Linked DNA regions of Homo sapiens. Each later gene encodes a partner of the first gene's protein in a complex. Each region holds a gene or a part of one and is shown on either strand. Other genes may lie near its edges. A codon is read from its position in the direction of its gene.

Evidence for each region.
Region 2: the proteins of RIOX2 (region 1) and RPL27A are in contact, whole or in part, in a crystal structure (PDB 4BXF), measured with the Homo sapiens proteins. Residues at the interface, in NP_001035998.1 of Homo sapiens: Arg98, Asn101, Gln136, His138, Gln139, Leu161, Val162, Gly163, Ser164, Asn165, Tyr167, Leu176, Pro177, His179, Asp181, Asp182, Val183, Val211, Thr255, Ser257, Thr258, Gln260, Asp333, His337, Met405, Met406, Gly407; in NP_000981.1 of Homo sapiens: Gly36 (codon at 3,433), Leu38 (codon at 3,427), His39 (codon at 3,424), His40 (codon at 3,421), His41 (codon at 3,418), Arg42 (codon at 3,415), Ile43 (codon at 3,412), Asn44 (codon at 3,409).

What each region holds. Positions count from the first base shown.
Region 1 is NC_000003.12:97,966,844-97,978,225, reverse strand, and holds the start of RIOX2 (ribosomal oxygenase 2), read left to right. Parts: upstream 1-5,794; 5' UTR 5,795-5,845; exon of another isoform or gene 5,846-6,636; intron 6,637-10,593; 5' UTR 10,594-10,632; coding exon 10,633-11,064; intron 11,065-11,382. UniProt on the Homo sapiens protein: Oxygenase that can act as both a histone lysine demethylase and a ribosomal histidine hydroxylase. Is involved in the demethylation of trimethylated 'Lys-9' on histone H3 (H3K9me3), leading to an increase in ribosomal RNA expression.
Region 2 is NC_000011.10:8,676,150-8,687,476, reverse strand, and holds the start of RPL27A (large ribosomal subunit protein uL15), read right to left. Parts: upstream 4,686-11,327; 5' UTR 4,664-4,685; coding exon 4,661-4,663; exon of another isoform or gene 4,276-4,660; coding exon 4,212-4,275; intron 3,472-4,211; coding exon 3,396-3,471; intron 3,251-3,395; exon of another isoform or gene 3,121-3,250; intron 2,760-3,120; coding exon 2,585-2,759; intron 2,039-2,584; exon of another isoform or gene 1,908-2,038; intron 1,800-1,907; coding exon 1,671-1,799; 3' UTR 1-1,670. UniProt on the Homo sapiens protein: Component of the large ribosomal subunit. The ribosome is a large ribonucleoprotein complex responsible for the synthesis of proteins in the cell.

The DNA.
Region 1 (11,382 bases):
TAATTATACCTCTGTGATTTGTAACCAGATGTACTCTTGCACCCAAACTTTGATGAGATTTTGCTCTAATGTAACTTCTGAGTACATTCGATGTAACTTCTGAACATGCACAGAACCTCCACCACCTAATGTATAAGTTATGGGTGGAAACACTGCTTTGGAACAGTCTAACAGAACTCTGAAAGGCTCTCCCTGGTTGCAATTGTCAGTGAGACTCTGAATGAAATTAATTTAATTCTTTGAAAGTCTAGCTTTTTCTTTAGTTGACAAGGAGAAGGTTGATCTGGAGGTGAGACTGGGTTTATTGAAATTAACCTTGAGATCTCTGACAGACTGCCTAAGACCCTGTGTCTCTTTTCCTGTCTGGGCCAATGGACCCCACTGCTTCCTGGTCCACTATGCCACTCTCTTTGTCACCTTCCAGGTTGTCCAAGCCTAACTACTTTCCACAGCAACCACTCAGCCCAGAAGATGCTCAGTGGTCCTTGATGTGACAATCTGTGTGAGAGTAGGCTGCTTCCACACTGCCTTTTTGCCTCAGAGTGCTATGATGAGGTCACCGGCCAACTCCTTCTTCAGGATATTCCAGGTGAGAAGCAGCCTCCACATTCCCAGGGCCGTATATCTGGGGTACAAGAACTTTCCAACCCCAGTGGGATCTTTGGGACCTTTGGCCAATAACTTAGTTTCCTGGTTCCTCAGTTTCCTCACATGTAAAACTTGGAGAGTTATAGTATCTTCCTTTTAGATTTTTGTGTGTATTAATAAGTTTATGTACTCAGTTTTTTAAAAGGGCCTGGAAAATGGAAAGTGGTAAGTATTGAACAAATAAAAAATAATAATATTGTTTCCAGTTTGGGGGATTCAACTGAAATTTCAAGTCAAAATCCCACAGAGGTTATTTCACCAAAGGTTGGGCCTCTAGGTTTATAAATAACATTTGTCTGTAATTTTCTTTTTCAGTTATTTTCCTTTTCTATATTCAGAACCAGTTTATATGAGGTATATTTTTCTCTTCTTTGAAAGTTTTAAAAAACTTCATTAACAGACCCATCAGTACCTGACTAGTACCACCTTAGTTGGTCATTTTTAGGTCATTATGATATTTTAAAGGAAAATAAGTAAACTAATGTTGCATCATAATATTGGGGCTTCCTGACCCATATATACATTCTGTTAGTCTTGTAGGAAACATTTTCAATAGGAGCTTGTGTACCTTTTAACAAAGCAACCCAAAGAGTATGAGCAGAAAGCACCTCTGCAGGAGTACATATTTTTATAAGAATTGGGCAAGTCAATTTCAAGATTTATGATAACATGTTAAGTAAGAAAACATCTCTGTAAGGGAAAGTCATTGGAAAATCCTGAGGCATATTTTCACCTGCAAGTGCTGGGTTGCTGGAGAAAGGAGGTCTGCAGAATCATTTAAGAAAAGTCATGCAGCCTAACACCAACTTTCCTATAGGCACAGGCTGTAAAAGAAATTGGACTCTAAGCAAGAAAAGAAAATAGGAATGCTTACCCAATTCAATTTTGTAAACAGAGTAACTACTCTGTGAAGAACTCTGTTGCAGTTCTCAGAATTAAAGAAGCACATTTCTTGCTCCCAAGGAGTTTAAATCATAGTTTTATAAATATGCAAAATATAATTCCAAACGGTGATGGTATGCTTGTTATCAAGTTAAGTACGTTGAGTTCTATGAGCTGTATCGTAACTACTATAGTCTTGAAAGACCTCGGCCTGGGTCATTGTTAAACAAATTTGACTTTTCTGAAGGTACTAAGACACCAAGATTATCCCATGGTGATATGACATCAATTTGAAGGTACTCTGCTTGATGAATTGTGTAAATTAAGTGAAGTATGCATGTATAAAAGGCCCAACTGCATTTAATTCATTCCATGGAATCATGTTCAAGATGTCATATGGGATTTAACAGTAATGCCTCTCACACTCAATAGCATTTTACAGTTTTAAAACTCTTTTGCTTACTCCACCTCACCTGAAACTCACAGCATCTTTCCGAGTTAGGTGAAATTAACCACTTTTGGAGAAACATAAACAGAGGTCCAAAGAATATTACTTGATAGGCAGTATGGGTGCTATGGTCTGAATGTTTGTCCCCACCCTGGATTCATATACTGAAACAGAATCACCAATGTGATTGGAAGGTGGGGCCTTTGGGAGTAGATTATGTCACGCGGGTAAAGCCTTATAAATGGGATTATAAAGAGGACCCACAGAATTGCCTTCCCACTTCTACCACGTGAGGATGCAGCTAGAAGGTGTCCTCTGTGAACCAGAGAACAAGCCTCCAAAACTGTGAGAAGTCCATTTTTGTTGCTTATAAGCCACCCAGTCTTAGATATTTTCTTATAGCAGCCCAAATGAAAAAAATGGACTATCAAATGATGTATTTTTGAGCAAGTTCCTTAACCTTGATGTGTCTGTTTCCTTATATTAAAAAGTTAGCCCAATATAGTGGTATAAATATTAAAGTCATATACTAGAAAGACATGGTTTAGATATTTTCTGGACCAAAGTGAATACAAACACATAGGGGGCAGTACTCACATAGTTTAAAGCAATGTGTGTTTCCTGGAATCGTATGACACAGTAGCATTATAAAATAAAGCTTTACAACAAAAATACAAATATTAATCATTTTATAAGTTCTTCAATGTTTATAGACTGAAAGGTAATTCCAATCAGACTGATTCTTCTTCTAATGCCCTTTGAAAATTGGAGCACAGACCCTTAAGCCTATGGAATTTGAGTGCCAATAGGGATATCACAGTACATCTGGTGCAATCTTACTTTATAAATGAGGAAAGTGAATGTTAGCAAAGAGAGTTTTCCAAATTCATATACCTGGCCCCTCCAGAGTTAGATCTAATAACCATAAAAAGTACATTTACACACCACCATTTTTAGATTTTTTTGCACCCAGCATCATTGTGACTGGAGGTAGGAGTAGGACAGGGTTGCACTTTTGCAGCCTGATGCCCAGGCTGGACAGGTGCACAGCCACAATGAGGTGGCTAAAAACCAAAAGCTCTACAGGAAGAAGAGCCTAGGAGACCACAGAAGAGGAAGACAAACTTGGCTCTAAAAAGAGTCTTTTAATAAAGCAATCCAAACGGTGTGAACGTCAAGCACCTCTGCAGAAATGTAACTTATTTTACAAGGCTCATGGACAAGTCTGTTTCAGGGTTTATGGCCGAGACATGAAGGGAATTCTCTTCTTTCTCCTGTCTCCTTGGCATCTTGTTCCTCAGTTACAGAGGAGGAGCGCTAGTCTGTTGATTAGAAATCTGGAGGCTTCTAGACTTTTCCGGACAGATCTTGAGAGCTGCCATCTACAACATTGTTTTCATGAGAAAATTAATTACAGAAACAAAATAACTGACTTTTAAATGAACCTATGGTGGGGACTGGATAGCAGTCTGCATCTTGTCCTCTGGAAGAACTTTTCCAAAAAAAAAAAAAATACCAGAAACAATACATGTAGGAAGGCCATATATTCTAGAAGCCTCCCAGGCAAGGTTGCAGACCATTCTCCACTCCCATCCCATGCCACCCTTACTTCCTCACCTCCTCTTCCTCCTCTCAGGCAAGGTTGCAAGCCATTCTCCACTCCCATACCATCCCACCACACCCTTACTTCCTCCCCTACCTCCTTCCCTCCCTCCCCCTTCCTCCCTCCCTCCCCGCCCCTTCCTTCTTTCCTTCCTTTAGACGGAATTTCGCTCTTGTCACCCAAGCACAAACTAACTTTCCTTCTCTTTTTCTTTTTCTTTTCCGAAACAGAGTTTTGCTCTTGTTGCCCAAGCTGGAGTGCAGTGGTGCAATCTCAGCTCACTGCAACCCCGCCTCCCTGGTTCAACCAATTCTCCTGCCTCAGCCTCCTGAGTAGCTGGGATTACAGGCAGGCACCACCATGCTTGAGTAATTTTTTTGTATTTTTGTTAGAGACGGGGGTTTCACCATGTTGGCCAGGGTGGTCTTGAACTCCTGACCTCGGGTGATCCACCGGCGTCAGCCTCCCAAAGTCCTGGGATTATAGGCGTGAGCTACCGCACCTGGCCCCTTCTCCTTTTCTTCACAGGAATGATGGGCACTGTTTAGGTCTGAAAATGGAACTATCATGACTTTTTTGCTTGCTATGCTAAGAAATCGGAATTATAATGAAAAAAATCAGAGAGAACATACTGATATACTAATTTTGCATTAGAGGAACTCCTACACAAGATGTATGATTTCCCCCTGCAAAGCTGACTTCCATATGTACTTTTGTTCTGTTAGACATCCTGCGGCCATTTTATATGCTGAGAAAATGGTATTTTGTGTTGACATTATAACTTTTTTCTACAACCGTACTGCTTTTCCAAGTGGTGGACGTGTGAGAATTTACCTTTATCTGAATCCCGGGAACAGCAATATTATTCTATATTATCTTGAGTAGATGTCTTGCAGTCAAAATAAAGAGCGAAGTACATTACCAATATCATATCAACTAGAGATTTTTGCTGTTGACTATTCTTTTTTACCCTGTAAGGGCTAAATTTGATGTTACCCTCGAGTTTTTCCAACTGGAACCTGCCAGGAAACTTACTAGTTATACGAGTATTAGTAAAACGTGAAAAAGACCAACAGTTGACTGACTGGTTTGGCTCTAATCTTGTTTCTGCATCTTCCTAGCTGTGTGATCTTGTGCAAGTTAGTTAACCTCTCCTGACTCAGTTTCCTCAACTGTAAAATGGAGGTAATTGCAAGGTTGTAGTGAGGATGAAGTGAGGAGTATTTGAAACACCTAGCGTGGTGCCTTATAGCCAGGAAGAACTCAATTCAAGACTTGCTATTATTGTTAGTTTTAGACAAATACTAGACAAGGGTGTACTTTGTTCCCATTTGTTCATGTGCCACTTGATCCTTAGAAGCAGCCACTGGTCTCAGTCACCTTGACGGAACGAAATGTCGACTTCCTCTGGGTCCTCTGGCTGTCTACAGAGCAAAGAAAGGCACAGGCCCGCCACTGATTTCCCTGCTCCCTCATTTGTGCCTCCTGACTGGAACCAAATGTTCCAAAGCAGGGAGTGTTAGGCTGAAAGGACTCAGATAACTGCATTTCTTCTGTTTCTATAGCCATAGTCGCAACGAATTTCCAGTATCTTTTAAAACTAGGATTGACTCTCTCTCCCGGAGCGAGATGATATAAATGACACTCGGCTTGTACAAATCAGCATTGTGTAGCCACACAGCCCATAAGAAAGCCATGGGAGAACCCGGACCACCAACTCCCTAAACTTGCACCGCTGGTATTCCTCTTCAGGCCTGCTTCTCTATTCATAAAAGGAACGGAGTTGCACCAAAACGCTCTCTCAAATCCTCTCCTGCCGCCCCAAGTTAAAAGAAAAAAAAGGAGAGCCGGGTGGGTGGCTCACACCTATAATCCAGCACTTTGGGAGGCCGAGGCAGGAGGATCGCTTGAGCCCGGGAGGTAAAGGTTGCAGTGAGCCAAGATCGCTACCACTGCACTCCAGCCTGGGCGAGAGTGAGACCTTGTCTCACATACCATAAAAAAAAAAAAAAAAAAAAAAAAAAAAAAAAAAAGAGGAAAAAAAAGGCCATTTATTTCCTTCCATATGGACTAAAGAAACGCCCGGGCGTGAACGCGGAACACCGCCGGGTAGCCAGGCCTCCGGGCTGCCACCACTTGCGGGCCGGCGTGGCGGGGCGGGGCGGGGGCTGGAGCACGGCCCGGAGCGTGCCCACGCTGCCCCGCCTCCAGCCGCTGCGCCGCAACGCAGTGGGCTCGCGGCCGCGAGCAACAGGCCGTGCCGGGTGAGTGGGGCGCTCTCGTGGGCATCCCAGCGCCGGGGCAGGCCGGGTAGTGCCCGATCCCGCGGGGCGCGCGCTGCTGCTTTAGGCACCCGGGCTCGGGTGCGGGTCTGGGAGACCTGTCGGTCGGCGAGAAGCCTCGGTGGCCGGCGCTGTGGTTGCGGGACCTGGGACGCGCTCCCAGGCGTCCCACCTCCCCGGAGACTGGGGCAGGGTGGGTGGGGCCCGGATCTAGGGGTAGGGTCGCGGAAGCCTTGGTTACAGAGAGTCGCACACGTGGCCTGCTAATGGTCGCGACACCGGTGACGAGCGCACGGAAAGTTTGGAGGCTTAGCAAGGAGGGTGGTGCCGGCCTCCGCCCGGTGGTGGCAGAACTGCCTGTGCGAGCACGGCTTCCACGTGGGCTGCGCCGCCGGGCGTCATGTCGGGCCTAAGAGACACGCTCTACAGCTGTGAAATCTGAAGTTCAGGTGTGTGGGGAGAAGGGCAGCTGCATTACATCATATGCTTCCAATTCATTTACCAGCAAATAATTCCGCAACGATTGGCCGACAGCTGGGTTGTCCAACAGGTTACTGAGACCAGGTTATTCACTGTTTTCAGGAAGGATAGACTGGGAGGAAGAGGATCTGATTTCGCCACTCATTAGCTGTAAATCTGGTGCCTCGGGTTTCATGTCACTGGGCTCATCTTTGAGCAGAGGAACCTGATTTACTCAGCTTCTTCTGCTGGTACTGGTTTTTGCCTCCTGGACATCAAGCTTTGTAACCTCATGGTCACGAAAATACATTGAGGTATAGTCCGTTTCCTCTCTAAAATCAGACTAAAAAGATAACTGCTGATCACTCCTTTAGGTCAATAGGAGAACCAGTTTTCCCTCTGGATTGATTAACATATCTCTGAGCCAAAAAGAAATGTTTTAGATCAGTCTGGGCAACCTTGTTACAAGCAATATATAATTTCTGACAGCCGTGTGTTTAACTGAGCTGCGTTTGACTGTTGTCCTCCATTAGTGGACCTAAAATTCATCTAGAGAGCGTATTACGTTAATGCAGATTATGGGCCTCAGCCATCAGAAGTGGCAATCCAGTGGGCTTGATGAGGGCCCAGAAATTTGCATGCTAACAACCTTGCTGGTAACTCTGAACTACATTCTGTAAAACTGCCCAGGGGATGTAGAAATTCATACTTCCCTCCCCGATTTAGTAATAACTACTGATGTCTAAAGTGCCTTTTAGCTTTTACGATACTCTTGAATCCTGAAGTGACAGCTGCAATCAGAAAAATAATCCCCTCTGCACAGGCCATCTGTTTTTTCCGTAACTGTTTTGTGTAAGGCCTTTGTGGTTTGTCTCCAAAATTGTATACAGACAAAAGATGAAAATGTGAAAAATTCAGCAGACATTTCTTGAGGACCTCCTATGTACCACACCGTGCTTGTTTCCGGGGATATACAAATCCTTTCCTTCAAGAGCTTCCTCACGTCTTCATGTCCTCAAATATTATAGAAAAGGAGGTTAGGGTACCTTTAAAATATAGTGACTGTCTGTCTGTTGCCTATAGTATGGTTGTCAACATTGATTTTCTTATAGGGTTTATCTGTGGGGTAGTCACCAAAGTATGAACTGTAAATCTTTTAGTCTTTTTACATTTAATGCTTATAGTCAACTCAAATGGAAAACAATTGCTCTTCAAAAACTTTTCTGTGATTTTACAGAAATATTTACTCCTATTGGGGTGGTCTCTAAGGCTTATGGGCAAGGTTGTGTTGGCTGTACTATTCTAGACAAAGCATTGTCTTCTTTAATTACTATAGTATTGGATTCTAAGATATGTGTTTTACTTCTTGCTGTTTCCGAAATTATGATATGTACCTTAAGACTTTTGTATGTTTAATGTGGTAGGATGCTTCATCTATTCTCCCCTCTGCTCTAGAAAGCTGTTAAGAGGAATGGTTGTCTTACAGTATGAGTAGTGTGAGAATCAGAGAAATAATGTATTTGCCCAGAAACCTCTAAGCTTAGGCTCCAATTAACTGAGCCTCAAATCATTTCAACATGAACACAGAGAAACAAATGATGTAACTTTTGGCAGTATGGGTAGTGAAATTTATATTCTAAGGAAAGCATTTGTTATACAGTATTGGGGTTTGTTAGTGATTGTAGATGGGAAAGATTCTTTTAAGTGATTTTATTTTGGCTTAAGTGTTTTGCATTCTTTGATTAGCCACACTTTCTGGTGAATGTGCTTATACTGTATTCATATATTATGCTTAAAGAAAAGCTTTTCGTTTGCATCTTCCTCCTGCTCTCTCCCCTTAAATGAATTTTAAACTGACCAATTGTGAGAGATAAGAGATGTGTGGCTGAATATAAAATGACTCTATAGGGTGCCTTTAGTAATACAAACCTAATAAACCAATCTAAGTTTTTAAAAATTAAACGTGAGCAATGTGCTGTGGTCCCCAAGGCCATCTTTAGTTCAGCAATTTGCTAGGAGGACTCGGCTGATTTATTACAGGGAAAAGATATCAAGCACAGTCAGCAAAGGGAAGAGGCACATGGGTGAAGTTCTGGGGATACCAAGTGCAAGGCTCCAAGGGTCTTCGAGCGGTCACACTGGCTGTGCTCAGTTGCTCCAGCAACTAGTTGTGTCAACACTTGTGAAATGTTGCCAACCTGCGAAGCTTGTTAGAGACTCAGTGCCCAGGGCTTTTACTGGGGGCTTTTCACTTAGGCCACCCCTGCCTGGCACATACCAACGTTTCCAGACTCCCAGAGGAAAGCAGGTGTTGGTATAAACTGTAATGATTGTACATTTTAGGCATGGTGAGCCACTCCTATCAGTTAATGGTGGTGGAAACTCTCCCAAAATCTTAAGTTCTCAGACATCGGCCACAAGCTGCACTTTCAAAGGATAGCAGTCAGGCCTGCTATGGAACGTCTTCTGCATAAGCAGTACCCCTTCCCGAATCCATTTTTCTATCTCTTTGTATTTCTCCATCACTTGAGAGTTCCATGTACTAGCAATGCTGTGCCTTCCTGAAGCCTTAATTCTTTCCTGGAGAATTCAAGCTGGTCTGTTTCACTTAAAGGAAACATTTTCAGAAAATGTGTCTTACTGACCACATATCCTAAACACTAAAGTTTATTTTTTTTTTCTAAGCTTCAAGCTTTACCCCTCTCCTGTAGTATCAGTTTGTGTTAGTCTTCCACCATGTCCTGTGTTTCCTTATCAAAAGCACCTGGTCTTTTGAAGGAATGGAGCTGTTTAGAGGGTTTTATATTTTGACATTTCCTTTCTTAATTTGTTCAGTTTACATCTGGGTTTCAATCTAAAGTTTCTTTTATAAGTTGCAACACGTCACACAGTATGCAACACATCGTTCCAGGATGCTTACTTCCCAGGCCAGAACATTAATTCCACTTAGTCTACAGTGTAGCTGAAATACTGCTTAGTTATAATGACAAAAGAACAGAAAACAGTATTCTTGCAATTCTGATAACTCACCAAAGTAGGAAACTATACCATTTATAAATAACAAGTCTTTCAGAAATTTTGGTTTTTATAAGTACAGTGGTTCTTAACCTTGTCAGGAGATAGGGACTTCCTTAAGAATCTGTTGAAAGTGATGGAGTCCCTTCCCAGAGGGAAAGGACTTTAAGATAGAATTTTGCAGTCTCAGGAAATTTAAATAATTTGAATTACAGTTCTTGGAAACAGATGAGGGAAACCTACCCTCTAAGTATCAATAGTTGTGGTTTGGAGGCAGTTCTGAAGGAGCTTTGCAAGGCTTGGCTGTGTGGCTTCGACTACTCAGCAGTGTCAGCAGCAGAAGCATCACCTGGGAGCCTGTTAGAAATGCAGAACCTCAGGCTTCACCTTGGAGCTAGTGGATCATATCCTGCATTTTATTGAGATGCTAAGGTGATCTGTGTGCACATTAAAGTTGGAGAAGTGCTGTGTTAGGGGCTAATGATATTGGTATTATTTAAAATCTTCAGTTAAAAAGTTATAGTTTTTTCAAGGCTTTAGATATAACTACTTTTAGCCTTCACTTTTCAGCCTTTAGGGGCTTTATTTCTTTAAACGAAGGGGAGTTTCTGATAAAAGTGGCCGTTTTCAGGAATAAGCTCAGAGTTGGAAGTGAGCAGGTTCAGGTGGTTAGTGGAGACAGGAGAAGGCAGTGGCCTGCTCCAGCCACCAGGAGACACCGCGGGTCCAGGGCGCATTGATTGACCTGCGCAACAGTTGGGGTGGTGCTGCGGTGAGGAGCACCTGGCAGTGGGCGGCTGTTAGTTTTTCTCTAGTCAAATGTTTGTAACTCAGAGTACATCTAATTAGATGTGGGCCCTGATGCTGATGGGAGCCAAATCCAAGATATTTGACTTTGCTGTGTCAGTGGCCACAGGCTAAACCTGTGAGTAGGAACTGCTGAGACAGTTGAATAGGTTTATTTGGGATAATTATACTGCCTAATAAATAATACCATGACATAGTGCTTGTGTAAAAGAAAAACACGTTCTTCTTTAGATGAATATGTCATCTGAGTGGTGGTTGAGCTTGAATCATATCTTAGAAGAAATGGCATTGGCTTAAGGCTGTCTCCTATCCTGGGGGAAGTAGCTTTGACCTATGAAGAGTTCTCACGAAGGTGTAATGGTCATTCAGTTGTGTGTGCGCGCGATCCACTAACACCAATGCTGGCACTCCTTGTAAACCTAACCATGTGTGTTTTGTTCTTTTGGTAGGTTTGCATTTCCTTACTGCTTTGTCTTGAAGACAGAACGATGCCAAAGAAAGCAAAGCCTACAGGGAGTGGGAAGGAAGAGGGGCCGGCTCCCTGTAAGCAGATGAAGTTAGAAGCAGCTGGGGGGCCTTCAGCTTTAAACTTTGACAGTCCCAGTAGTCTCTTTGAAAGTTTAATCTCGCCCATCAAGACAGAGACTTTTTTCAAGGAATTCTGGGAGCAGAAGCCCCTTCTCATTCAGAGAGATGACCCTGCACTGGCCACATACTATGGGTCCCTGTTCAAGCTAACAGATCTGAAGAGTCTGTGCAGCCGGGGGATGTACTATGGAAGAGATGTGAATGTCTGCCGGTGTGTCAATGGGAAGAAGAAGGTTTTAAATAAAGATGGCAAAGCACACTTTCTTCAGCTGAGAAAAGATTTTGATCAGAAAAGGGCAACGATTCAGTTTCACCAACCTCAGAGATTTAAGGTAACCAGTTTCCCCATTGCAGAATCCTCATACATTTTAAAGTACTAACATTTGGCCACATATCAGCTCAAGGGTGAATACGTAGTTTGATGATGGTTAGTCTCTTGCCAGTTTGAGAAGGGGTAGCACCTCTTTGGTCTAAATGCATTCTAACTAGGATTAAGATTATGTGTTATGTTTGGTTGGACTGTTAGAAACTCCAGCAACTCAGGGTAGACATTGTTGGGTATCATTGAGCTGCAAAACTAATTATACTGCAAGTTTATAAAGTTGTTAAAGTGGCACTACAACTGCAGGAGTATGTTCTGTGAGCCAGTT
Region 2 (11,327 bases), on another chromosome or scaffold:
TATTGTGGGATCCTTGGATTCAGGTTCCATATTACAAGTCCTCTATGGGCCCTAATGGAGAGCCCTTACTTTTTTTGGGGGGGGTGGACAGAGTTTCACTCTTGTTGCCCAAGCTGGAGTGCAATGGCACGATCTCGGCTCACAGCAACCTCCGCCTCCTGGAGATTCTCCTGGCTCAGCCTCCAAAGTAGCTGGGATTACAGGCATGTGCCACCACGCCTGGCTAATTTTGTGTATTTAGTAGAGACAAGGTTTCTCCAGGTTGGTCAGGCTGGTCTGGAGAGCCCTTATTTCTAACTTCTCCAGCACAACAGAAGATACAAGCCAAATGATACATTTGTTTAAAATTGTCCAGCTGAATCGAGGTTTCACTACTTGTAATTCTAGCCTATTCTTATGTAAGCCAATTCAGTGCTTCTCTGTGCCTTCTATTTGATCCCCAACATCCTCTAAAGGTTGTCCTGACAGATGTGTCCCATAGACAGCCATGGTTCTCGGCTTATTATGACCCCACAGTGCACTAAGGAAACCTCCACTAACTAAAACCCAGGAGTCTAAGTGCCATCTTATTTGTCTATAGTTTTAGACTGTATTATTTTGGGTCAAAAAAAGCTCAAAATCACAGGAAGAACCATAAAACTGTAGCAAATTATAATTTACCGAGATCTATGAGGATCTTATTTGTAAACATGAATTGGTCACCATCAGTTTTCCAATAGCAAGAGACACAAATCCTAGAAAAACTTATTTCAATTTCCAGCCTTCAGGATTTCCAAATTTTCCCGATACATTTCAGACTAGAAGAAAAATTAACTATTTCAAACCCACTTTGACATACAGAAAAGCCCTGGCATACTGAAATTTCAGATTGCTGGACCCCCATCTCGAGATTTTGATTCATCACATTCTGGATGTAACAATAATTTGGATCAAGATTAAGGAGCCATGGCCGGGCGCAGTGGCTCACACTATAATCCCAGAACTTTTGGAGGCCGATGTGGGCAGATCACTTGAGGTTAGGAGTTAGAGACCAGCATGGCCAACATGGTGAAACCCCATCTCTACTGAAAATACAAAAATTAGCTGGGCATGGTGGTGGGCGCCTGTAATCCCAGTTAGTCAGGAAGCTGAGGCAGGAGAATCGCTTAACCTGGGAGGCGGAGGCTGCAGTGAGCCGAGATCGTGCCACTGCACTCCAGCCTGGCAAGAGAGACTCCGTTTAAAAAAAAAAAAAAGATGAGGGGGCCACGTGGAAAAACCTTGGGCTGAGAACTTAAGTCCTAAAGGACCATCTCATTCCTATCACACTGCCCCTCTTTAGAATGTGACCCATCAAAATGGAATCTTTCCTTTTGAGCCCTGTTGAACAATTAGGGTACATTCTCTCATTCACTGTAAAATTCAGAGTACAATACATGCAGGCCTTTCAGTGATCAACAGGTATTATTCTGACTTTATAAACAGAAATGTTTAACTGGCCAACGTCTGTGTTGGTCTTACGTTTACCATATATTTGAGGGAAGTCAGGAGAGGACCCCATGTCTTCATACCCTAAGTACTAGAACCTGGGCTCCCAATGCACACAGGATGTAGAGGTGCCACTGAAGAACCTACACTCACACCACAAGGAAAAAGTAGTTAGCATTTAATGAAACTCCCTCCATGTGGCTTCAAGCCACCAGGACACAGGCCCCCCCAACACTCTTAATCTTCTCCTCAGCTCTTCTGCTGAAGAATTTGGCCTTCACGATGACAGGCTGCTTTGGGAGCTTTCCCTTTCCCAGAACTTTGTAGTAGCCCTAGAAGAACAGAGAAAAAAGTTTACAATACACTGTAGTAGGTACCAACTGCGTGATGGGCGTGAGGAAAGACTGCCAACCCACTTTCTAAATCCCTAGGCAGGGTATGTATGTTTCTGATCTGGGCACTAACGGGGGCACCGACTGCCCCCACCAGTGAATCAAGACCAGTAGATTCTCTTCGAGTACTCTAGCACACCAGGACAAGAGTTGTGTCAGGATGTGACTCTAGTCTCGGCAAAGCATAAGCCTCCTCCTGCTCAAATACCCCCTGCTAAGCAAAAGAAGACAACCACCTTCCTGACCACCAGAACTACTCAATGGACATTAAATAGGCTGGGAAGTGAATTTAAAGCGTCCCTAGGGTTCTGGCCTCTTAACACTACCTCTATATTCATGAGAGTTAAGACTGACACAGGGACCAGAACCCCCGCAAGGACAGACATAATACATCTGTTTTGGGGGAAAATCTCTTCAGATAATGCATGGCACTGAGTATCAATGGAACATATTAGGATTCTATTATCTGGAGAACATGAAGGGCCAAGAGCTGTGCTCAGTGAAAACCAGCTATAGTTCAAGCACGAAATGCAAACCTGATACAACCTGGGCAGTGACAGTAGGCACTGCTACGGATAGGGAACTACCTATGATAATTCTACCACAGGAAGAATATCAATGTCTGGTAGGTAACTGGGAAGTACAGATTATATAAGTGGATTAGATTAAGCCAGAGTTTTGTAAGGGAAGGTATGGAAGTACAGAAAAACATCCAATTAACTTACCGATCGCACCACATCAATGATGGGAGCAGCCCCAGTCTTGTTTTTAGCAGCATTCACCCGTGTCTGTTCACTGACCAAAGTCCACAATTTGTCAAGGTTGACAGTTGGGCAGAAGCTCTGGTTCCTCTTTAAGTGGTAATGCTTCATACCAACTTTCCCAAAGTAGCCTGGGTGGCTAGGAAGAGGTAACAACCACCTTCATACACACTCCAATTAAGATGCTATGTTTATCATCTTTATAGTTACCACCCCCTATTAGAGTGTAAATTATTCACTGGTGTAGAGCAGTGTCAGGCATATGATACATCTGTTGACTTAAACAACTGTTTTAAAAACCACCAAAGACTATCATGAGGAAAAGGCTAGTCTTATTTCCTGGAACCAGGATAAACCACCGACAATGTCAGAGGCAGGGCCGAGACTAAAATTCAAGTCACATAACAGCACTCTATGGAAAATCTACATACTCCTATAATAAACGTCTTCTGAATAGCCAAAATTTATCATCCACTAGTTTGTGGGTAGGTGAATGTGAAGCATGTCTCTAACCTGGTGACTGACTGTGCCATAAGGCCCACAGCCAGTGAATAAGGTCAGCAGTTACTCTTCGAGGACTCTAGCACACTCAGGCAATAGCCGATACCCAAGCGTGACTCTAGCCTCGATGACAGGTTCTCAGTTCACACCAAGTGTTAACTTGGTAAAAAACAGCAATAGGCAAGGCTTGCTTCTAAACTTTTTGTTTAAGCCAGCCCTCTCTCTGCCCCTACCTCCCAAGCTGTGTCAATAAAAGCAGTCCAAGGACACTTACTATTTGTCGAAGTTGATCCGGTGGTGATGCAGACCACCAGCATTACCGCGGCCGCCGGGGTGCTTCCGGTGCTTGCCTGCAGGAATACAAAGCTACGTGGGGCCGGTGTGATGGCTCATGCCTGTAATCCCAGCATTTTAGGAGGACGAGGGGGGGTAGATCACCTGAGGTCAGGAGTTCGAGACCAGCCTGGCCAACACGGAGAAACCCCCGACTCTACTAAAAATAGAAAAAGAATTAGCCGGGCGTCGTGGCGCACACCTGTAATATCAGCTACTCGGGAGGCTGAGGCAGGAGAATCGCTTGAGCCCGGCAGGCAGGGGTTGCAGTGAGCCGAGATTTCGCCACTGCACTCCAGCCTGGGCGACAGTGATCAGTCTCACACACACACAAAAAAGCTACATGCACCACACAGCCTTCTCATGCATCTCAATACTTCCTCGCACAAAAGCAGAGTGTTTCCCAGACTTCTGTGTCCCGCTTACGCTGTTCCCACCCTACCGATGCCGGTTTTCAGCAATGCGATTACTTTAGGATTCCGGGTGAAACATCTTTTCAGGTTCCACATCACAGCATTCCCACAGTACTCCATGTCTTCAACTAACCCAATACCGTGCCTGCTCAATTCCTATTACCCCACTGATGTGAAATTCCTTAGAACTGGAATACTAGAGGATCGTCAGAAAAAAATCAACAGCTGTGCAACTTGACCACAAAAAGGTCTTATTCTAACCCACTTATAGGCTACCGATCTCCAGACTAGCTAAGCACCCGAAGAGAGCCCAAGGCCCACCCCGAGGGGAAGCCGGCACTTACCTATGCGGCCGTGGCCGTGGCTCACGTGGCCCCTAAGTTTCCGGGTCTTCCTCAGTCTGGATGGCTGTGTGGAAAAAGCTTGGTGGTAAGGCCTAAGGAATTAGGGGCAGGGGGCGATGCCCGCCAGCCGAGATGGTCCTGTAAGCCTGTGGGTCAAAGACCTAACTTCTGGAGCGTTTGGGAAAGCTGAGGGTACCGATCCGCTCAGGGCCGTGAGGTCTCACCACGGTAGCGCAGGGGCCCGCGTGTCCTAGAGATCCGAACCGCGGGCCTAACACACGGCTCCGGGAGCCCCGCCCCGGGCCCGCGCCGGCCACCCTGCCCCGCAGGCGGCCATGCGCAGCCTGGAAGCCCCGACCATGGTAGGGAGTGGATGACTAGGGGCAATGGGAATACAGCTTAGGGGTCTCCGCCGGCAAGGAAGAGGAGGCAAGAAACGAAACACCTACCATGTTGGCAGCCCAGACGAAAAAGGAAGGCCTTCGCCAAGTCTCGCGAGGTATCGGCCACGGGGGCGGGGCAAAACGCCTCACTTCCGGTCACAGAGGCCGGGCTTCGGGCGGGGCCTCCTGGTCTCGCGGGATTGCGCGCCTGCTAGTCGCTTCCTCTTTCTGAGGGTGGTGATCCCCCATCACGGAGTGTCCTGGTGGCGGTGTACGGTTTCGGTGAGGCTCGTTGTGCTAGGCTCGGAGGGCGAGAACTGTTGAAGAATCGGGGCTAGGTGTGCTGTACTGCACGCCGCCCGTGCTTGCTTGAGCCAGGCCCTTTTCTGGCGCCTTGGTCAGGGAACCGCCTAAGCCGACCCTAAGGGCCTCGTTGTCTGAGCTCCTCACCAAATGCGCCAGCCCTGAGCCGCCCCGCGCACCTCCACAGTTCTTAGTGGTCTGCCCGGGGCTGGTGATAGTGGCTACTGGTTTGTCTCCCGGCCGCAGTGCGGAACCGCGAGGCCCTCTTTAATCCTCAGTGTGCCCACCTGGTGTCTCGCTCGGTTTCCTGAAGCTCGGGCGGCTCCCGAAATGCCTTCTCCCGCTCTCACACTTCTGAGTGGGCACTGCAGCTTCCTTTCTCTTTTGCCCTTTTGCTATCATTTGGTTGTCCTCTCAAGTTTGAGCAACTTAAATTGCTTCAGGGACTTAGATGCCTGGTTGCTTTATGGTCCTTTTAATGCAGATGTTGTAAATACTTTTTCTAAATGCCACATTTAGGCCAGGCGCGGTGGCTCACACCTGTAGTCCCAACACTTTGGGAGGTCGAGGCGGGAGGATTTCTTGAGGCGAGTAGTTCAACACCAGCCTGGGCAACATAGTGAGACCCTCGTCTCCACATACAAAAGTAAATAAGTAAAAATAAATGCTATTTTTGAATTTTCTCCAGAATCTACATAACACGCCTGTGACCCTTTCCTGGACACAATGCAGACAGTTGCTCGCTTCCCCACCTGTACCACCACACAATCTAGTATAACCCTTATGTAATTTATTGACCTACGTTTGTCTTCCCTACTAGACCTAATTCCTTATGTGGTCAAGGACTGTTTTTTTTAATCCACACTCAACTAGTGATTGTTGAGTGAATAAATGAACTTACCCTCACCTCCCTGTCTTCGCTAATAGCAGCATGTCTTCGCTCTTAAGTCGGTTCCTTCAACCAGTGTTCAAGATCCCATCCCCTCGCTAGTCTATTAATAGATCCCATGGGAAAAATGAAATAAATTTTTAAAATCCCATCCCCTCAGTTATTCTCTGTGTGTATGTGTGAGCGTGTATTTATTTATTTTTCTTTGTCTTGCCCCCTTCAGCTAAAATATATTTTAGCTAAAATATCCAAAATTCTGGCCGGGCGTGGTGGCTTACTTCTGTAATCCCAGCACTTTGGAAGGCCGAGGCGGGCGGATCACGAGGTCAGGAGATCGAGACCATCCTGGCTAACACGGTGAAACCCCGTCTCTACTAAAAATACAAAAAATTAGATGGGCGTGGTGGTGGGCGCCTGTAGTCCCAGCTACTCGGGAGGCTGAGGCAGGAGAATGGCGTGAACCCGGGAGGCGGAGCTTGTAGTGAACCGAGATCGCGCCACTGCACTGCAGCCTGGGCGACAGAACGAGACTCCGTCTCAAAAAAAAAAAAAAAAATTCCAAAATTCTCCCATGTCCTTGCCCTTACAGCCAAGCTCCCCAAAAGAGTAGTCTACAAATCCTGCCCATTTGCACCTTCCCATCCATTGTTCACTGCGGTCTAGCTCACAGCCTGTGACTTCAGTGAAATTGCTCTTACTAATGTCATTAATGAACGAATTGCCAAATTGGACTCTTCCTATTCTTCATATCACTTGTTCTTTCTGTTGTACTTTAATCTGTTGGCGTCTTTTTCTAGAAAAAGTCTTGCCTTCCTCCTACTCTTTGGTCACTTTTCAGTCTTCTTTTCAGGTTCTTCCATCCAGCGTTGTCCACCATTTGAATGTTGATGTTCCTCAGCCTTCTGTCCTTGTCCTTATCTTTTCACAGTACATGGTCTTCTTGGGTGGCTTCAATTCACATCCTTATTGCTGAGCTCCACACCCATATGGTCACTTAATTACTGGTTAGTATTCCTTGGACATTCTACAGACAAAGTAAACATATCCAAAGAACTCAATCTGCACTGCTCACTGGTGCCTTCTCCTTTATTCTCTGTCTTGGTGAGTGGCACCATTGTCCACCTAGATAATGAAAATTGTCCCCAAGCCTTCTCTTCTTCTACTACACTGTCACCCTATCCTTTTGTTTCTGTATCTCCCCAATGTGCTTCCTCTGTTTAAGCCTTAGTGCCCTGCCTTCATTCAGGCCCCCATCATATCTCTTAACTGGAGTTTACAACACCTTCCTTTGTTCACTCTGCCTGCATTCTAACCCTCCTCCAATTTCTGTATCCTTCACACCTCCACCACGTTAGTATTCCGAAAACATGACTTTCATTCTTTTACTTGATCAAAAAGTTCGGTAGCTCCTTATGACCAACAGAATATAGCCCACTTGCCTTTCCAGCCTTACCCCAGCCTCTCCCTTACACAAGCTTTCTACTGCAGCCGTGCCTGGTATATCCCATTTGCATTTTTGCCTTTGCTCATGCTGTTTCCCATCCCGGAGTGCCCATCCTCTTCCTGACCACATGTCCTGAATCTTCCTCAACCTTTAAGGCCAACTTTATATTCTGCTTCTTCCCAGAACACTTCAGTCCACAAGGATAACAACCAACATTTTCAGAGCACTTGGCAATTTACAAAATACATCTGCCTGAAGGTACAGCACTACCAGCCTCATTTTACGTGTGTGAAAACTGAAGCACAGAAGAATTGGGTGACTTGTCAGACGCTGCATAGGTGGTCAGGTACAGAGCCTGGGCCTAGCCTTTAGTCTTCTCTCTCCAGATCCCCTGCTTTTACCTCAGTGACCAGTCCCTCTCTGACCTTACAGCATTATGGTCTTCATCCCTCCATCAACCTTAATCACATACTGCATGTGACCAGCAGGAAGAGGGGTCTTGAGAATAGGAGGGGAGATCAAAGAAGACATCGTCGTCTATTTGACATCAAAACTGGCCAGTAAGTGCACAAGAAATGAGCTGGGTTACCTGGAACCTAACCTTGGGAAGATGATCTGTCAATGGAGGTAAGCTGGGCAGGGCCTTGGGAATGAAAGGGAACCATCAGTGGTATTAGAGCTGGGGCCTACAATAAGGACCACCACTGCAAGGGGTTGAGGTAGGGTTCTGGGTGCTAAGACACTCCTCTTGGATAGTTTGCCAGGTTCCTTGGTTATAGAGGAGCTACGTTCTGTCCCTCAGGTCACGCGGCTGAACAGAAGGCCTCCCAGAGTGGACCCAGCACTACCCGTTGGGTTCTGTGTTCACCTAACATTCTTCTCATCAATGGCTTGATCTGGTTGTAGAGGGAGTACCCTGGGTAGTTGTCTGGCTCAATCCAGTTTTCTATCCAGCTCCCTCTCCTTCAAAAGGCAACCACATGACTTAAACACACAGCTCATGTGGTGTTTGTTCAGTGTGTGTCACTTTTCCTAGGTTGACAGAGGTCTGAGAGAGCAGACAAAGCTGAGTTTTCTGTCTGCAAAGTGGAGTAGCAGCCAGATATTTGGCATTAGGGGACCTGTCCCTCCCAGCTAGGCACATGGGACATGACCTTTGGCCATGACTCCTGAGGGGTGTCCTTCTCTGTGACATCTCTTCTGAAGTACAGCATGGCTTTGTGACATCTCAGGCATCTGGGCTTCCTCAGAGTGTGAGGGCCTCAGAAAATACCTCAGAAATGAACGGAAGAGATGATACCAGACAGCAGCCTGGTGAGGCAGGCAAGTGTGCTGATTTTTTGCTGCCCCAGGCCTCTCTCCAGGTGGCCTTGGGAACACATCATCACCCTGAAGAAGGCCCTGGTGATCCCTCTTCCTTTCTCTCCTCACTGGGTTCCTGAATTCGACATCAGTCCTTCAGATAGCAGCAACATCCTGAATGAATCCAGCTCTGTTTTCTTGCTCTCCATCTTTAGATGTGGACATTTGGAAATATGTTCGTTTTCTTTTTTAAGTAGAGCACTGTTAATCAAGATGGGAAGAAGCAGTGTTTCTGCTTTTTTTCCAAGTGAGAATTAGAGAAAAGCTCAGAAATCCCAATTTACTTCAGAAAGACTTGAAAAATTATACGTAATAGACAGTACAACAGTAAAGAAAATTCTGAAAAAAATATAAGTATAAGCAACTCAAATCATTCCACCCTGTGATGCCATTTTCTTTTCTGAGTATTACCTTTCAACCCTTGTATACATGGAGACATAGCTGTCTGCAAAGTTAGTGATCATAGTATACAAATCCTTTTGTATTCTTTTTATTTAATACCATGGCAGTTTTTCGTATCACTACCCAGTCTTCATGATTATTTTTAACAGCTGAAGAATAATTTATTTTCAGCATGTGCTATCTTTTATTAAGCCACTTTCTTGTGTATTTTGTTTTTTTAAAAAATTCTTATTGTATTCTTTGCTGTTAGAGACAATGATGGAATGAGCATTTGTATATAATTTTTTCTTCTCCTGTTGAATAACTTGTCTAGGATAAATTCCCAGAAGTGAGACTGCTGGATTATATGGTATGAACATTTTTGTGATTCATTTTATGTTACTATGTATTTTTTCCAAAAGGATCGTACCAATTTATTCACCAGCAATATGTACAGTTTCCAGTTTCATTTTAACCTCCCTAGCCTTGGGGGTTTTTGTTTGCCTTTATCGGTAGTTTTTGATATATGGCATTTAGGGGAAATCCATAGGATCAGGCGAGGTTTTCTTCAGCACAAAGTAAAAATAATCTAATTGGAAGATTAGGAATTTTTAGGAGTCTTTCTTTCCTGTGTTGGATAGAGTGTTCTACATGGCAATTACATTCCTAAAGCTTTATTGGAAACTAGGGTGGAAAACCTTGTTGCCATTAAACTCAGAGTAACAAAACGTGAAAAGAGAAATTCTAGAGTCTTTGAGAACAGCTTATACAATAGCAGAAAAAAGGAGTTACATATTTGGGTTTTACTTTAATTTCAGAGGATAAAATTAATGGAAAGAACACAGAAAGTTGGGTTCATTTCCTAGTTCTGTTTTTTTTGTTGTTGTTTTTAAAGATAAGGTCTTGTATGTTGCCCAGGCTGGTCTCAAACTGCTAGCCTCAAGCAGCCCTCCTACCTCGCCCTCCCAAAGCACTGGGATTACAGGCATGACCATCACGCCCAGCCTCCTAGTTCTGTTTTTACTCACTGAATTATATTGAACAAATAGCATGTTCTCTTTGAATCTGTTTTCTTGTCTGTATAATGAAAAAATAATGAGATTCATTCATTCGTTTTATAAATATTAATTGAGTGTGTACTATGTTCCTATGCTAGGTGCCAGGCAAGTGAGGGGCAGGTACAATTGTGAACAAAAGTCCTTCCCTAAGACTATGTCTAAGACATACATTAAACAAGCAAACAAATAATATATCACATATAACACAGCCTAGCAAAGAGTAGGTACTCTCATTACCTACTATTTCTCGCTCACATTTTCTCCCTAAAATGAGTGTTATTTTTATGATAATTTGTTCTGTACCCTTCATGCAAACAATCTTTGAAATTCTTATTCCCAATGTGATGTGGAATGACTTGTTCCATCATTCCTTAGCAAGGTTAAGGTACTCCAGTAAATATTTTCCTTTTCTTAGATATAGATGTGGTAAGATGTTAAAAGGAGGTGGTTTGTGGCAAGGCAATGTTTTAAAATTTAACTTTTTGTTAACATTTTAAAATGTAAATAAAAATAATTTCCTGGGTTTTGGAAAACTAAGATTTGGAGACATTAGACCCACATTCTTTTAAGTAAAGCACTTCGTTCATATAGATTGCCCAGCCCCTGTAGGCATTTGAATTTACTACCTTGGCTTAAGTACAGTCTTGCAAACTCTGTCCCCTACACTCTTCTAGGTCAGGGGAGATAAGAAGGAGAGGGAAGAACTAAGTTATGATGAAAGCAGCCATAAGAAGGGGGCAGAAATGGGGTCATTTGACCCTTCGTCTTCTCAAATCAGAAACTCATTGTGTGGCTGTGCCTTTAAATTAACCATTTACTTTCATGGAGTTACTTCAATTGCTCTTCTAAGACATAAATGAGATGCCTGTTTCTTTATATTCTTACCCTGTGTAGTACTTGCTGGTGGTGGAAAGCCATGCTACCTCCCTGAATTCCCAGGATTGTGATGCAAGGTCTAATGCAGTAGTTCTCCAAGTGTGGTCTGTAGACCTTATGGGGTGGGGGGTCCCTGAGACCGTTTCAGGGAGTTCACAGGTCAAACAATTTTAATAATAAAGCTAACGTGTTATTTGATCTTTTCACTGGGTTGACATTTGCACTGATGGTGCCAAAGCAATGTTATGTAAAACTGCTGATGTTTTGGGCACCAAACTGGAACAAAACCTTATATTCTTTACCACTAAGCATCTGCCGGTTAAAAAAAAAAAAAAGAAGTTTACCTTAAGAATGTCCATCCATGATGAAGTGGTAACAATTTTTATTAAATCTCAATCCTGAAATTCTTAAGTACTTTTT